2 linked regions of the Homo sapiens genome follow. The protein of the gene in region 1 purifies or fractionates together with the protein of each later gene. This does not show direct contact. Each region holds a gene or a part of one and is shown in the gene's direction. Other genes may lie near its edges.

Region 1 (4,694 bases):
GAAACCACTCAAGAGGACCTGGCCCTCGGGGCACTTTCAGATGCCAGAGTTGCCTTTAGGGCCTTCTGCATACTGGCCTCTGAGTGGCATCTGTGAGTGCCTGCCTTGTGAGATCACACCTCCTCAGATGACCATGGCCTGGAGCCTGCCTTCTTCTCGGAACGTGGTCTCTTGCTTCTCTCTTCTCCTTGCTCTCTATGCTTCTAAATGTCCCTGGATTTCTCCCACCCTTAAGCCTTTGCTCATGCTGGAGAACCATTCCATTTCCCTTCTTCTTCTTGGCTAACTGTCCTTTGTCCTGCAGACCTTGCTTCCTCCAGGGAACCTAGTCCTGCCCTTTTGCCCCTGCCCTCCTCAGTGTTCTCCCAGGGCCCTGGCTGACCTTAGTTAACATATTTAGCACACACATAGTACTTACCTGCTGAGAAGCCTGGGAGCCACCTCAAGGCAGGGACCGTAGGGTACATCTATGCCTCCAGGCCCAGCCTAGTGTGGGGCACAGAGGTGAAGGCGGGATATGCTTAGAGATGACAGATGAACAGATGAAAGGGCTCGTGGTGGGAAGGTAGTTGGATAACTGTGATGGTTTTCTGCTGTCTACAGTGAAATAAGGATATCATACTTTTTTAGGTCTCCAACAATGGCTGGTGGGCTGTTTGCTGTGAGTAAGAAATATTTTGAATATCTGGGGTCTTATGATACAGGAATGGAAGTTTGGGGAGGAGAAAACCTCGAATTTTCCTTTAGGGTAAGTATTTCAGTCTTCTCTTTGGACATGTTCTTAACTGATTCTCTCTTTGGGAACGATGGGATTTGCTGTAAGAGCCTGGTGGACCCTGAAAGATGATGACACGCATATCCTATAAACATGCTTGCTTTCTTGTTTTAGCTTTTTAAAAAGTGTACTTTTTCTAGATTTGGGGCCAGCAAGGGCCTTGCGAGTCACATAGTTCTCTCTCACTCTATGGAGAGGAGGAAATGAAACCAGGAGAGAGGTGACTTGCTCAGGGTTAGGTTCCTCCTGATCCTGTCTTCTGGAGCCTTTACTTGATTAATTCCTTATGAAGTGGCCTCTTTATTTAGCACAGTGCCTTTCAAACTTTGACAGATGTAAGAATTTCTTTTTTTTTTTTTTGAGACGGAGTCTCGCTCTGTCGCCCAGGCTGGAGCGCAGTGGCACGATCTCAGCTCACTGCAACCTCCGCCTCCTGTGTTGAAGTGATTCTTCTGCCTCAGCCTCCCGAGTAGCTGGGATTATGGGCATGTGCCATCATGCCCGGCTAATTTTTGTATTTTTAGTATAGACGAGGTTTCACCATGTCATCCAGGCTGATCTCAAACTCCTGACCTCAGGTGATCCACCCGCCTTGGCCTCCCAAAGTGCTGGGATTATAGGTGTGAGCCACTGCACCCAGCCAACACATGTAAGAATTGCTGGGTAAACTTGTTAGAAAGACAGATTCACAAGCACAATCTAGAATTCTAGCTAGATTTGATAGCTTTAGGGTGGGACCAAGATTCTGCTTTTTGTAACAAGCCTTCCTACTGATGCTACTCTACATGGCCCGTGAAAACCGTATTGGAAAACTCCTAGCATTTCAGTAGATTTTCCAGTTAATGAAGTCTTACATTTTAAGCATCAAAACTTTGTGTAAATGTTGGTGCTTTTCAGTGGAAAATTAAGATTTTTAATAATATTTTATATGGTGTTCTGCCCTCATAAAAACTGAATAAACAAGAATTTGGCCTTCTACCGAGGACTCACGCCCTCTGTAATAAGTACCAGATGCTGTGCTTGGTTGTCCCATCTTTGGGAAAATGAGATATTCAAGGCTGTCAGTCCCAGTGTGAGATGGGCTCAGATGCCTTCGCCTGTTGAGTCTTTGGGTGTGCTTTTAATGGTCTCTCTGCCTCTTCCTTAGGTGTCAGGCTGCTCTACCTGTTTCTAGACGCTCTTCCTTTCCCCCTTCCAAACCTCTTTTCTTCCTTGCTGCTTTCCTATCTTCTGTGGCTAGGAGATCAGGTAATCAAGCCTGTGTTTTCTGTAATGAGTAAGTGGGTTGCCAGCGAGGTCTCTGTGGATGCTCCTGTGAGTCAAGTGCATGAGCTTTAGTGCATGGACTTTGGGGTCTTGGTTCCCACAGCTTATATGTTTTGGGGGCTGCTTTCTTGCTCTTTACCCACATTCTGTGTCATGAGTGTGCCGGGTAGGTGGCCTCCTGCCCGATGGAGGCTGAGCATCTTGGCAGTGTCCATCATGCCTTGCGTGTGCCTGGCCTCTTTGCTGCAGATACTATGGACCCGCAGCTCATCCCCTGCTCACCACCTGGCCTCTCCTTTTCTCTGTGTGCAGATCTGGCAGTGTGGTGGGGTTCTGGAAACACACCCATGTTCCCATGTTGGCCATGTTTTCCCCAAGCAAGCTCCCTACTCCCGCAACAAGGCTCTGGCCAACAGTGTTCGTGCAGCTGAAGTATGGATGGATGAATTTAAAGAGCTCTACTACCATCGCAACCCCCGTGCCCGCTTGGTGAGTTCCTCGGCCCACCTGCACTCCATCTGGCTTCATCTGAACAACAGCAGCTAATCGTGGCTTCCCCAACATAGTCGATCTGGTTCCAGAAATAGAGAATAAATTGGGTGCTCAGATACGAGTAAGGGGAGAATTTATTCCTCCATTTATAATAATTATATGCAGTCAAATCTTCTTATTTACAGCTGTTATAGTGCATAAAGCCACCACAAATGCTGAATTCATGAAAACAGAGCCATTGTTCTTAGGGGAAATACAGGGTTAGGTTCCTGCCAGACTTGGGGCACAGTTTTGTCAGCAGATCAATACAGAACCTTGTTTTCTATGTGTTTCTGTTCAAAGACACCTGTTTAACATATATCGTTGCATCATTAACATTGCACTCATGGCTAACAGCACGGTAACTCATGCCAGAATGAAGCTTACCTAGCACGTGTTATTTTCTCTTCATCACAACCTTCTTGCATTTAGGAACACTAGGTAGCACTTCAGCACTACGACTGGGGGACATTCTAGAATAGCTGGTGCAGTCACCAATACAAAGCAGGAAAAAATGTGGTGCCCAACAGATGGTGAAAAGAACACTGGTTTACAGGATGAGAGCTGAAACAAGAAGGCGGTGTGTGCCCTTGTTATATATCACCTGGAAATGGGAGTTAAGTGTTGGGCAACTCAAATTTTTTGTCCATGAATGTGTGTGAAAATTAGAAAACACCACAAGTATTGATTTGGAGGTTACAAATCAATTTTATTATAGCATGTAGGGAAATTCAGATACAGAACCAGTAAATAATGAGGATGGACTGTACCAACATAGATAGTTGGGGATACCTGGTGTCACAGGCCAGGCATTGTCCATGTGTTTTGGTTTTCCTCTTTGTAGCCAGTAGGGTGAGTCCACAAACACAGGGTACAAGTTAAGGCACAGTTCTTTACCTTAAAGCTATTGCTCAGGGACACATCCGCCTTATTAGTTAGGGGTCTGTTACCTCCCTCTAGAGCCTTCTTGTTAGCACCCTGGAAGCTTCCTTTTCTAAAACAGGGAGTCTGTTCTGCTTCCATTTCCAGATGGAAGGACTACTGGAGAGTGGCCCAGGCCCCCGCTGCTACTCTTTCTCACCATATGTCATGGTCATGGAAACCCCCCCACCGCCAGCCTAACAGATGTCTATCTTCCTCCCCACTCAGAGGCCTTGCTGGGCCCATCTCTCTGACCAATGGTGAAGGTGTGCCTGCAGTCACTGAAGTCTCAGCTCAGTTGGCTTGCTCCCCTGGGTCTCAGCCACACACTACAGGGACACTGGCCCATCCACCCACTGCACTGAGTCTGTCGGAGGCTGAGGTTCAGCCCAGACTGTGTCCTTCCTCATAGCGATTTATCTCAGGGACTTGTTTTCTGGTCCGGATCCTTGCTCTGCCTCTACCTCCGGGACCATTGTGGATGAGGGATCTGCCTCTTCTTTCCCAGGTCTTGGGCTTCAGATGAAACACAGTCCACTGCCTCTGCCCCAGCCAGCTCTGCATGCTCCATGGCAGGGTGCCTGCTTGCCCTGCATTTGCATAACTAGTAGGGCTGCTTGGCAATACAAGAAGGTCTTGCTCTAAGGCTTCTCATCAGGCCACTTCATGGAAGTCTCTTCTGAGTCCTTCCAGCAACCCTGCAGGGTAGCAATAAAATTCTCATTTTATAGATGAGAAAACTGAAGCTCAGAGAGACGCTGTTGGAAGGAACTTGTCCAGGCCCTGTGGCTGATAGGAGGTAGAACTGGGCTTGGGGCCTGTACTCTGCAGCGCACCTCTTGCTCTGCTCTGCAGAGCCCATGGGTTCTCAGCTGGACTCCCACTCAGCCCCTCTCTGGCTCTGGGCTCCATGGTCATTTGCTTCTGCCTCCTCCGTCTTGCCCAGCACCATAGAGTAGAAACACCCACTCTTTCCTCATGCACAGTCTGGAACCCATAGTTCCCTTTTCCTGAGGGTTCCCAGAGAATATTTTAGGGGGGCACTGAATGCACCCTTAGGCTTCATGTCCAAGGCCAAGTGCTAAATGGATACTTGGCTGAAGCTGGGGGCGCAGTGACTTTCACCAGTGAAAGAACTCTGGGAAATAGCAGAAATCTGAAATCTTATTCAAACATGTACTTATTATTACCATTTTGTTCA
Region 2 (5,330 bases), on another chromosome or scaffold:
ACCTGTACTTTTGCACCAAACCCCTCAAGCCTTCCCCACACAGTGCTTTACCCCCGTCTCACTAAATGTTTAACATCTCAAAATACTCTTAAAATTTTTTATTTCCCAAATGAACCTGTGCCCATACACAATGGAGAAAACATTGTCTAATGACAAAACCTGGAAAGGAATACACAAAATAAAAAGAGCACAGTGGCAATTTTGTAGGTGATTTATTTCCCATTCAAAAATATTTTTAAGGCCAGAACCGGTGGCTCACGCCTGCAATTTCAGTATTTTGGAAGGTCGAAATGGGCAAATTGCTTGAGCCCAGGAGTTTGAGACCAGCCTGGGTGACATGGTGAAACGCCATCTCTACAAAAATTAGCCGGGTGTGGTGGCATGCATCTGTAGTCCCAGCTACTTGGGAGGCTGAGGCGGGAGGATCACTTGAGCAGGGGAGGCAGAAGTTGGAGTGAGCCAAGATCACACCACTGCACTTCAGCCCGGGTGACAGTGAGATTCTGTCTCACACACACACACAAGATTTTATTCGGAAGGCTGAGGCAGGAGGATCACTTGAGGCCAGGAGTTTGAGACAAGTCTGGGCAACATAGAGACTCCATCTCTAAAAAAAAATTTTTAGCGTTTTTCCCTCTCAGGCCCTGCATTCCAAAATGACAAAGAAAAGAAGAAACAAGAGTCATGCCAAAAAGGGTAATAGCTATGCGCAGCTTATTCTCGCCCAAGGACCGGACCATTAAGAAGTTTGTCCTTTGGGCCGGGCGCAGTGGCTCACGCCTGTAATCCCAGCACTTTGGGAGGCCCAGGTGGGCAGGTCACTTGAGGTGAGGAGCTCAAGACCAGCCTAGCCAAGAGGGCGAAACCTTGTCTCCACAAAAAATACAAAAATTAGCCGGGCATGCTGGGGCACTCCAGTAATCCCAGCTACTCGGGGGGCTGAGGCCAGATAATTGTTTCAGCCTGGGAGGCAGAGGTTGCAGTGAGCCGAGATCACGCCACTGAACTCCAGCCTAGGCGACAGAGCGAGACCCCATCTCAAAAAATAAAATAAAAATAAAGGTCCTGCCCTCAAAAACATTGTCCTGTGTCTGCGGCATGACTTTCAGACAACATGGTTTTTCAACGTCCCACCAGGATTTATGTAGGTGAAAACCTGTTTCCGATAATCTGAATCTCAAATCCATTCTGTTTTACATATAAAAACAGTTTGGCGGAGGGCATGGTTTTGATAGACCCTGAATTTTCGAGGAATGCATCAACCATGAAAACAGAACACAGATCGAACTTTTACTGGGAACTTTACTAAGTTCACTGAAAAAAAAAATCATATTACCCATAACAACATTTGTAGCTTTACATTCACGATGGATATATATGCGTGTGTACGTCTGTACTTAGGTTTTGTTTGTTTGTTTGTTTTGAGATGGAGTCTCGCTCTGTCGCCCAGGCTGGAGTGCAGTGGTGTGATCTCGGCTCACTGCAACCTCGACCTCCCAGCTTCGAGCGATTCTCCTGCCTCAGCCTCCCGGGTAGCTGGGACTACAGGCGCCCGCCACCACGCCTGGCTAATTTTTGTATGTTTAGTAGAGACGGGGTTTCACCATATCGGACAGGTTGGTCTCAAACTCCTGACCTTGTGATCTGCCCGCCTCGGCCTCCCAGAGTGCTGCGATTACAGGTGTGAGCCACCGCGCCCAGCCTGAATATTGTTTTTCTTATCCATACTTCACTGTAAGCAGATGGAAGCATCTGTCTGCTTCATTATGTCTGCCAGTGTTGAGTACCTGAGTATTTTCATATTGAAATATAGCTTTAATGATACATTACTTCTCTCTTCCTTCTTTACATAGCGGTTAATCATATTGAGCTTCTGAAATTGTGCGCGTGGGCAGATTAGCCATTTTTGGGTTCCCTCTTACCCCCCGGACTAAGCCGGGACGGAAAAAAAATGTGAAGGGGGCGTTCCCGATCGATTTGGCCCCGCCCCATAGTGTGCCCAGAGCCTTCTGCCACACTTAACATGGCGGCGGCGGCGCCCTGCCGAGGCGCCTGAGCGGGTCGCGAGCGTGGTGTTACACTCCAGTCATGGCGGCCCGACAGGCCGTGGGCAGCGGGGCTCAGGAGACATGCGGTCTGGATCGGATTTTGGAGGCATTGAAGCTGCTGCTGAGCCCGGGAGGTGAGAGGACGCATCTCCGCGCCGGGCTGGACCCGGGACTCTCAGGGCCGCCCGGCTTCCGGGGCTGCCCTGCCTTCCGCAGCGTGCGCCCCTTAGGCCCGCCTCGGGACCCTCCGCCCGCTGCTGGGGGCTTTGAGCATTGTCTATGCCCGTCCTCATTACGTTCTTGAGGAAACTGAGGCTCAAGGAGGGCGCGGGATCCGTTGACTGCTGATATTAGCCAACATCTCTTGAGCATTTGCCTTGTGCTGGGCTCTGTCAGGCGGGGCCGTTATTTCATTCAGTGCTTACTGCAGCGCTCTTGGGAGGGGGATATGGACCCAGCTCCAGAGAGGGTAGGGCGCCCGCGACGTAGAAATGTGAGGTCCTAGCCGCGTGAGGGCGCAGGGGCCAGCATGGACCCTTGAGATTTGTACGAAATGCCAAGAAGTCCAGACATCGGAAGCAGTGACGTTTGAAATGGGTTTGGGGAGAGTATTTAGGGGTTACCAGGCGCTTTTAATCTTTGTGGTGCGTGGACAGTTTCTTCCCAGTCTAAAATCTGAAGGGATATTGGGAGTGGTTGAAGCTGCTACTCCTTTTGCGACTGAGGACACCCAAGGCTCACTGAAGAAATTAAGTAACCTGTCCAAGATCACGTGGTCAAATTAGGGGCAGAACACGGACCTAGGCCCGAGATCTACTGAACCCCCTTCTCAGAATCAGACAAATTGTTCAGTATAGGGGCTCTGATGTTATCTGGAGCTTTTGGAAAGGACGTGGAAGATAGAGCTCTGCTTATCACTGGGGTGTATATTTGGGGGAAGGGATGGGAAGGGATCTGTAGAATTAGCAAGGGCACATGAAAGGCCAAAGGGGATCACCTCCCAGTCTCAGATTTTATACTTAAAACTGCAAAAACTTCTGCAAACATTACACCACACCAGCGGGAAGTGAACACAAGTTACTAATATTAGTAAATGAGTGCCTACTAAGTATCAGTCCCCATAGTAGGCTGTTGACATACACATCATTTAATCCTCATTACGATCCCCTGGGATCGGTACTACTTGTATTCAATTTTTACGGATGAAGGACCAAGGTTCAGGTACATTGGAAATTGCCCAATGTCAGACTAGTAAGTGGCAGAATTTGAATTTAGGTTATTTCCACTAAAAGTATGGTAAATATGCTACATTGTCTCAATTAAGAGTCAGACTGCAAAATAGAATTTTAAGTTGCTAATCGAGAGGTCACTTGTCTTCTAACGGCAACTCTTTTTTTTTTTTTTTTTTGAGATGAGGTCTCACTCTGTTGCCCAGGCTGGAGTGCAGTGGCACAATCTCGGCTCACTGCAACCTCTGCCTCCCAGGTTCAAGCGATTCTCCTGCTTCAGCCTCCCGAGTAGCTGGGATTACAGGTGCACACCACCATGCCCAGCTAATTTTTGTCTTTTTAGTAGAGACGGAGTTTTGCCATGTTGGCCAGGCTGGTCTCGAACTCCTGACCTCAAGTGATCTGCCTGCCTTGGCCTCCCAAAGTGCTGGGATTACAGGCCTGAGCCACTACACCTGGCCTGCAACTCTCTATTGTATGACTGAGAACACGTTTAAATAAGCAAAAATCCTGAAAGTAATCATCTGTTATGAAACATGTATATTATGCTTCATTTATAGAAGACTCTCTAATCTCTATGAGTATGTGGTGGAGTACACATATATGTACTCATTTAATTTACAGAAATTCAAGCATTCCTATTTGAAGAGGAATTAGTTCGTGAAATTATATTATTTTGTACATGTAGTCTTATATATTATATGAATCTGTCTACTATTTTATCATATTAGCTGCTTAGGGAATTTAAAAATATCTGTAGTGGCTGGGCGAGGTGGGCCATACCTGTAATCCCAGCACTTTGGGAGGCTGAGGCAGGATCCCAGGAGTTTGAGACCAGACTGGGCAACATAGTGATACTCTGTGTCTACAAAAAACTAAAAAATTGGCCAGGCATGGTACTACACACCTGTGGTCCCAGCTACTGGGGAGGCTGAGATGGGAGGATTGCTTGAGCCTGAGAGGTCCAAGTCTAGGCTGTGGTGAACCATGATTACACTAGTGTGCTCCGGCCTTGGGTGACAGAGTAAGACCCTATTTTGTTTTTTGTTTTTTGTTTTTTTTTTGAGACAGAGTTTCACTCCATCACCCAGGCTGGAGTGCAGTGGCATGATCTTGACACACCGGAACCCCCACCTCCCGGGTTCGAGCAATTCTCATGCCTCAGCCTCCCTTGTAGCTGGGACTATAGGCACCCACCACCATGCCTGGCTAATTTTTGTACTTTTATTATTTTTTGAGATGGAATTTCGCTCTTGTTGCCCAGGCTGGAGTGCAGTGGCGCAATCTCAGCTCACTGCAACCTCCACCTCCCAGGTTCAAGTGATTCTTCTACCTCAGCCTCCCGAGTAGCTGGGATTACAGGCATGCGCCACATGCCCGGCTAATTTTTTGTACTTTTAATAGAGACGGCGTTTCACCATGTTGGCCAGGCGAGTCTCGAACTCCTGACCTCAGGTGATCTGCCTGCCTTGACCTCCCAGAGTACTAGGATTAGGATTACAGGCGCGAGCCACCATGCCCAACCTCAAGAAGTCAGCTGGATTTTCATATCTGCTTCTCCAGTCTGTCATGATAGGTTGTTTTGACTGAAGTACATGAAGAAAACCTAGACTCACATAGATATGTAACTGGAAAAGGGAGGAGAGTTCAATCACCTTTTCAAATAATTATGTACATTCTTTTATACGATTCTTTCTTTTTTTTTTTTAGACGGAGTCTTGCTCTGTCGCCCAAGCTGGAGTGCAGTGGTGCGATCTCGGCTCACTGCAACCTCCGCCTCCCAGGTTCAAGCAATTCTCCTGCCCCAGCCTCCCGAGTAATTGGGACAACAGGCACATGCCACTGTGCCTGGCTAATTTTCTTTTTTTTTTTTTTTTTTTAGTAGAGACAGGTTTTCACCATATTGGCCAGGCTGGTCTGGAACTCATGACTTCGTAATCCTCCCGCCTCGGCCTCCCGAAGTGCTGGGATTACAGATGTGAGCCACCACGTCCGGTCTTTTATACAATTCTAAAGCTCAACAAGATAATCTCTGCATGTATTGTGTGGGGAA

Evidence for each region. Proteins that work in one complex are often made in the same cells at the same time.
Region 2: the proteins of GALNT12 (region 1) and TANGO6 purify together in Homo sapiens (affinity purification with mass spectrometry; one large-scale study listed by BioGRID and IntAct). This does not show direct contact.

What each region holds. Positions count from the first base shown.
Region 1 is NC_000009.12:98,834,619-98,839,312, forward strand, and holds part of GALNT12 (polypeptide N-acetylgalactosaminyltransferase 12), read left to right. Parts: intron 1-630; coding exon 631-748; intron 749-2,353; coding exon 2,354-2,530; intron 2,531-4,694. UniProt on the Homo sapiens protein: Catalyzes the initial reaction in O-linked oligosaccharide biosynthesis, the transfer of an N-acetyl-D-galactosamine residue to a serine or threonine residue on the protein receptor.
Region 2 is NC_000016.10:68,841,530-68,846,859, forward strand, and holds the start of TANGO6 (transport and Golgi organization protein 6 homolog), read left to right. Parts: upstream 1-2,001; 5' UTR 2,002-2,088; coding exon 2,089-2,182; intron 2,183-5,330.